2 linked regions of the Homo sapiens genome follow. The protein of the gene in region 1 purifies or fractionates together with the protein of each later gene. This does not show direct contact. Each region holds a gene or a part of one and is shown on either strand. Other genes may lie near its edges.

Region 1 (3,651 bases):
AAGCTGGATAAACGGAAAATGTTATTACCACTTCCCTGAAGTGCCCTCCCTTTCCCCATTTTTTTTTCTCTTGGCCCTAGAGATCCTACCCACTACTCCTACCCCATCCTGCACCCCATGCCTTTTCTCATTCTCTTGATCTCCATTTTTCTCTTATTGTTCTAGTATCTTTCAATAGGAGATTCAGATAGGGAACAAGTTTAACGTGAAGCATCTAACTGATAGCAGTGAGAACAAAAAGAAAAAGGATCTAAAGGAGACACTAAAAAAACCTGGTAAAGGTCTATAATTCCAAGTAATATGGTATATTCTCACCACTTACGTATTTTTTCATCACAAAGGTATACCATTCTTATCAAAGAATTATGTGAGTGTAAGTTTCACAACCACCTTCAAAAAGTTAACCACCACTTTTTATCAAACCTAAAACATCAATGGTCATAATATGCACCATTAGCTTTATATACCACCAAGTAAAAAAAAAATGCTTCCACCAAACTATGATGCAACATCGATTTTAGACGCATCTCATTTTCAGAGCTCTTCAAAGTCTTTGAGATGAGAATATTTTAAAAGGTCTACATTTTATCCTATTTATAAGAAAATTTATAGTACAACAAAGACAAATCCAACCTGCCTATAATTAACAGAATGATACATATTTTAAGAACACAATGCTATTTTAAAATTGACAGGGGCGAGACTTATCCCTCAGATGCTTTGCAGGTACTAAGTTTAAACAATCTTTTTAGTGTAATTCAGAATGCTGGGTTAAAGTCATTTAAAAAATAAGCTCCCTTAAACCCTAGCAATAAAAAATAATCAGAACTGTACTTCAGAATTGTATTTTCTGTTCAAGAAAAGTATACCTGTATACAAAAACATCCCGAACACACTGATTTCAGTGCAGAAACAGCCTAATATCCACTAAAAATAGCTTCTAGTGACATAATCTCTGCTCAGAAAATTAAAAGCTAATGTTAACATATTGTAGCCACTGATCAGTTGCATTTTGATAAGCAACTCTGAGTTAGAAGATAGTTCACTCTGACTTCAAAACCTCATGATTACAGCTTCACATAGCAAATGCTTAATTTTCACATTTTAAAGTCTTGTTTCCACTAGAATGTGTCTTTGTATGTTTAAAAATATTTTCAGTTTTGAAAATTCACTGTGGAATGTGATTAATTTTTGCCTACCTGGGGGTTTGCTAGAGTAGTCCCCTCTCTCACCCCTATAATGACACTTTCATTCAGAGGAAAGTTTTGAGCTTTTGCCTTCACATAGGTAACTACATTTCACAATTGTGAAAGACTTGTTAGTAATGTGATACATTCATACTTAAAAACAGGACCTGGAAATACCACTAAACCCAGGATACTAAAGCATCTTCAAGACAGTTGGGAAAAGATTAAAAATCTAAAGATCAGTTGAAAACATTTATGAAGATAACACCCACAGGGATTAAGGAGTCAACACTTCAGAACTGGAATATCTTGGGGTAGACTACTAACTAGCCAAAACTCATTAAAGAAGCAGAGAAGGGAACACTCACAGATTTAACTACCATAGTTGGCTAGTCTGGATTCCTCCTCCACAAGCTATGATCAATGGAGACACAAGAGATTGTCAACAGGGAACTAAACATGTTGCTTTTTAAAAAGTGTTATTGCTCATACCTCAACATCTAGAGTAGTAAAAGTTAAATGAGCGCATTGCTTATCAGTTTAATGCCTTGTCTTATTCATGTAATCTATGCATTAATTTAGATGTACTGATTACAGGAAAAGAAAAGTTAAAAGACTGGAAAAGAGCAATGATTACGATTTTTAACCAGAAGTGGGCACTAGAATCACTTCAATGGGTGCATTTTCAACATATACCAAAAAATTATATGTACCTGAGTCCCACCCCTGGAGATTCTGAAATATATGCCTGCCTCACAAATGCGACTGCTATCAAAGAATAGCTTGTTTAAGTAGAAAGAGCCTAAGATTTAAAGTTGAAAACTTAATATGAATTTCCATTCTCACGAACAAAAATGTTCGTCAACCTCAAGTTTCCTTTTATTCTTCTGTTAAAAGTACTCAAAATATTAGAGATGAAATTTTAAAGAATTGTGTGAAAAAACTTTATAAGTTATAAAAAAACACTATACAAAATGTTAGTTATTATCAGATAGTACTTCATGCACCTCTCCAAAAACAAAGTCAGTCATCTTCCTATTTCTTTTTCTCTCCATCTTGGTATTCCACTTGTTTCAAACCTGAACAATGTCATCAAATAACTCCATGAAGACCAGGAACTTAGGCGCCTATTATAACTGCCAGGCTGGGAACAACTCCAAGCATATGACACTGTCTAATTAATTTATGTTTTGGCTTCATTCTATATTTTAAAAGGATTAAAAACGTGTACTTTTTAATGTGCTTTTGACATATTTAAGTCACATGTTAATCCTATGAAGTAACTATTGTTACCTTCATTTTACACATAAGGAAACTGAGGCTCAAAGAAGTAAAGTAACTTACCAGAAGTTACTAAACTACTAAGTCCTGAGGTCAGGATTCAAATTTAGACTAAGTCCTTGGCATTTTTCCTACTTCATGAATTCTGCTACAAGAAACAATTTCACTTTAAAGCAACGTAAATACCAAAGCAACTGGACTGTTTTAAACAACTAAGTTTTAAATACTCAAGCTACATATTTAGAGGAAGTACTCTCAAGACTGGTCACACGCTTTATCTTCTGGATAAAATAACTGAAACGACCTTACAATTAACTGCTTACACAATTTAAAACAGCTCTGTCCAATAGAACTATGGACGGTGATGAAAAAACATCTTTTATCTGTGCTGTCCACAATGGTAACCACTAGCCACATATGGCCTGAAAACAGCACTTGAAATGTGGCCTGTGCAACTGAGAAACTGAATTTTTAATTTAATTTTGGTAAAATATGAAACCTTAAAATATATAATAGGTAATGAATATACATTTATAAACTAGTTACAAACTTCTGTTACTTGATATTTCACTTACAGCTTCTCAAGCTCTTAAAATTTGCATTGTCCAAAGAAATTACTTAAAATTCAAGCAGCCAAATATGCAAAATTAAAATACTTAGCAGGTCCAAGCACATATCCATATAGTTATTGCAGATCAAGACGACATGGAAAAAAAAAAAAGCAAACAGCCAAAATTCTTTAAAAAAAAAAACAAAAAACCAAACCAACAAATAAGACTGAATTTGTTAGGCAGCCAAGGAAACTTCATGCGAAAATTTCATAATCATCACAACTTTATTTTCAGATCAAGCATCCAAACAGGTATATGATCTTTTCAGCAAAATACAACGCCAAGCGCTATTATGGATCAGGCATTTTACCTGAAGACTTATTTTTTGTTCTTGAACCCTCAATGATAGCAGTAGAAAACAAAAGCAGCTGAAATGTGAAATAATCCCTAGAAAAATCAAGAATTAAAAAAATTTACAACATTAGTGAAAAGCAATTACTCAAAGAACAAAAAGTTGGGGCTCACAAGTTTTAATAATAAATACTTTCAGATATTAAGTTATCTCTTATACGTATAAAAGAACGTAACATTAACTAATTCTTTCAATTACAGATCCATGAGCTATTACTGTA
Region 2 (3,651 bases), on another chromosome or scaffold:
AGAAAGAAAGAAAGAAAAACCTAAATCATAATTTTGTCTCTCTGCAGTGATAATTGTTGCTAGCATATTGGTACATACTCCAGAGAATTTTCTCTGTTTTTGCATCATCTACACACATAACCATAACATTTTAGCATTAAAAAAGAGATCATATTTCTTTATTGCATTTCAATGTTTTCATTGATAATACTAGGTGTTATTAGCCATTTTGATATTTGCCGTTCTTTAACACAAATGTACGTTTTTGTATTAGTTTGTATTTTTCTAATTACCAGTAATACTAGTTTTTCACAGGCTTAATGTATTTTTTATTCTCTCTTGTGATCTGACTTTTGCTCCATGTTTTCTAGTAATGATCACTTTTTCTTATTGATTTGTATGAGCTCTTTTTATATCAAGCATATTAACTATTTGCTTATCATGTATATTGAAGAAAATTTTCCCTAAGTTGCTCTTATTTTAATTTCATGTTAGAGGTTTTATTGTTGTTGTTTTGTTTTATAAATGTTTAAGACTTTTTTGTAGTCATATATATGATTATTTTCCTTTTTTTTTCCTGCCTTTGGTGTTCTGTGACCGGATTACTGTTTTTAATGCTCAGGTCTGATCATATGACCCCTAGAATGATTCGTGGCCTGCAGAGCCTGGAGAGGCCCAAGCTCCTTGGGCTCAAAATCATCCAGTAGATGAGTCCTCTTCCTTGGTCAAATCACATTTCAGCTCATTTCTGGCTCCTTTCTGTCATACAATTAAAAATAAAAAAGCTTTTTACAGACAGGATCTCACTAGGTTGCTCAGGCTGATCTTAAACTCCTGGGCTCAAGGAATCCTACACCTCAGGCTCCCAAGGAGCTGGGATTACAGGCCGAGCCACCACACTTGGCATGTTCATAAAATTATACTCTATTTGATACAATCAATTGCTATTCTGAAAATTTGTCACATCTTTCACCACTATTAGAAATTGTGAAAAAATATAAGATTTTAATAGTGAATAGAGAAGGTTATTAAAATAGACTGATGTGATATTCTTGAAATTACACCTTAGAAATCATTTTTCAAAACCAGAGACAGAATACACTGGGACCTTGCTTCAGGATCCCTGTGTGCTGGGAAGAAGGGAAGCCTGGGTTGAATAAAAGGTCTCCTAGCACAGCTAAGGATATTCTGCTACAATCTAAATGCATTCAAGTGATGTCGCCCAAATTATGAATGCTGCGTGATAAGCTCCCCTTGGTTAGCTGTCACATGGCAAGCTGACAAGTTACCTAGAGGTTTTCCTATCCAGAATTCCCACCCCTCTTTGCTCATGCTGTTCTATCTGGAACACTCTCTCTCAAATTATCTCTATCCCTCCTCAACTCAACTACATTAATCTTCCAAGTCTCCCCTCAAAATCGATCTCCATTTTTTATTCCCAAGCAAAAAACAAGTCAACAATTGCTTCTTAGAGTTTGCAATGCTTTATGACTCTTCTCATCATATCTTCTCTTGCTCATGATTACCTGAGTGCATGCTACCTCCCTACTACACTGTAAGTTCCTTAAAGGCAGAGACTGAATCTCATCTTAGAGCACTCTTTCAGTACCAAACAGAGGGCACTGGGTAGTCCTTAGTAAATTTGCTGAATAAAGGAATGATTGTGATGACCAGCTCAGTGCTACATCACTGAAGCCACTATCTGGGGTTTGCTTTAAGAAGGTATTGGCTGGGCACAGTGGCTCACACCTGTAATCCCAGCACTTTGGGAGGCTGAGGCAGGTGGATCACTTGAGGCCAAGAGTTTGAGACCAGCCTGGCCAACATGGTGAAACACCATCTCTACTAATAATACAAAAAATTAGCTGGGCATGGTGGTGCATGTCTGTAATCCCAGCTACTGGGGAGGCTGAGGCAGGAGAATCGCTTGAACCTGGGAGGCAGAGGTTGCAGTAAGCTGAGATCACGCCATTGCATTCCAGCCTGGGTGACAAGAGCAAAACTCCATCTCAAAAAAAAAAAGAAAGAAAAGAAAGAAGGTATCTGAGAAGCTCTAAACCCACACTGGAGTTGGAAACAGGCCTACAATCATTATTAGGCCTTCCTTTGAATTCTTAGCAACACTGCCCTATCAGCTCAACATTCACCTCAGTATTAGCTTCTGGGCAAGTCAATATCCTAGAGATCCAGTATTTGTCCTGACACATTCACTAAGCTAACAAGAACACACGGCTGGAGCCTTGGTACCTTTCAGCTGATACCACCACTCCTGAAGAAAAATAACACAACTTTTTTTTTTTTGTTTTTGAGACGGAGTCTTGCTCTGTTGCCCAGGTTAGAGTGCAGTTGCACAATCTCAGCTCACTGCAACCTCTGTCTCCCGGGTTTAAGCAATTCTCTGCCTCAGCCTCCCGAGTAGCTGAGATTGCAGGCACCCGCCACCACGCCTGGCTAATTTTTGCATTTTTAGTAGAGATGGTGTTTCACCATCTTCGTCAGGCTGGTCTTGAACTCCTAACCTCATGATCTACCTGCCTCAGCCTCCAGACAACTTTTCTTATAGCCTCCAAATCCAGGACAAGGCTGTGAGGTTCCAACTCACTAAAACATGGCATAATTTGCAGCAGTTGATTTTGCTCAAACAGAAGCTCAATGCAAAGGCATTCAACACAGAGACTAAGAGTGTCATACCTGAATGTTAACATCTGCCCCGTTGTTTACTAACAATTCAAGACACAAAGCACCATGAGTGGAGGCAGCAGCAAAATGCAAAGGGGTGAACCCATTATTGTTTGGCTGGTTCACGTTAGCACCGTAGTCAATCAACTCGTTAACCACAGCATCCTGTCCATTGTAGCAGGCGATGTGAAGCGCTGTATTTCCATAGACATTGATTTCATCAATCTGCAAAAGAGTCCAACACAGGGTGATTAAAGTCATTAGAGCCAGTTTACTCCATTTTCCACAAAAAGCATAACGGCTGTGGCTAGAGAAAGGAAATAGCCATCCGCCAATATAATTGTTCAGAGCTTACTCTTGCCCCAGTGTGGTCATCTTGGGAATGCTTGTCACCCCATGGTAAAGATCAGCAAAAAGTCAATGTGGCAAAAAATGAACTGGAGACAGAGAAGTTTCATCCTGGGGAGAGGTATTTTTCAGCTAACAAAGGAATAAAAGGTGAAGGGCAAAGCTGCTTTCAAAACACCAAAAGAGAAGTAAATCAGAGGAGAATGAAAAGAGTCCCACACTCTAGGATTGGGGCACAGAAAACCTCAAGAAATGGTGGGGGATGGCAGAGGAAGTGGCTGCGGAGATGGCAGGGGAGGTGGCTGTGGAGTCTAAACATGGAAGGCGGGTCAGAATCCACTCTCTGTTTTGCTCTGGAGTCCGACACCTCACCAGGTTGCATTTTAGTAGCAGAGCAGTGGTGCCGTCAGGAGGTGTGTTTCGTCCACGGCTCCCTATTGCTTTCTGAGACCTGCCCTGGATGCCTGGTTTCCTCATTATGGTTTTCCATAATGATGCAACTTGGTTTTCCTTTCTTGGGGGACAGGATGTTCCAGCCTCACCACTGCTCCTGTTCTACCAGCAGAAAGAGAAGGCAGCAGTCTGCCTTTTCCAGCTCAAGAGTAGACATTGCTGCTGTTTGTCTCTGCCATTTATTCATTCATT

Evidence for each region. The genes of interacting proteins can lie anywhere in the genome.
Region 2: the proteins of ZNRF2 (region 1) and ANKRD44 purify together in Homo sapiens (affinity purification with mass spectrometry; one large-scale study listed by BioGRID and IntAct). This does not show direct contact.

Annotation. Positions count from the first base shown.
Region 1 is NC_000007.14:30,350,576-30,354,226, reverse strand, and holds part of ZNRF2 (E3 ubiquitin-protein ligase ZNRF2), read right to left. Parts: intron 3,467-3,651; exon of another isoform or gene 3,390-3,466; intron 1-3,389. UniProt on the Homo sapiens protein: E3 ubiquitin-protein ligase that plays a role in the establishment and maintenance of neuronal transmission and plasticity. Ubiquitinates the Na(+)/K(+) ATPase alpha-1 subunit/ATP1A1 and thereby influences its endocytosis and/or degradation.
Region 2 is NC_000002.12:197,118,662-197,122,312, forward strand, and holds part of ANKRD44 (serine/threonine-protein phosphatase 6 regulatory ankyrin repeat subunit B), read right to left. Parts: intron 2,884-3,651; coding exon 2,671-2,883; intron 1-2,670. UniProt on the Homo sapiens protein: Putative regulatory subunit of protein phosphatase 6 (PP6) that may be involved in the recognition of phosphoprotein substrates.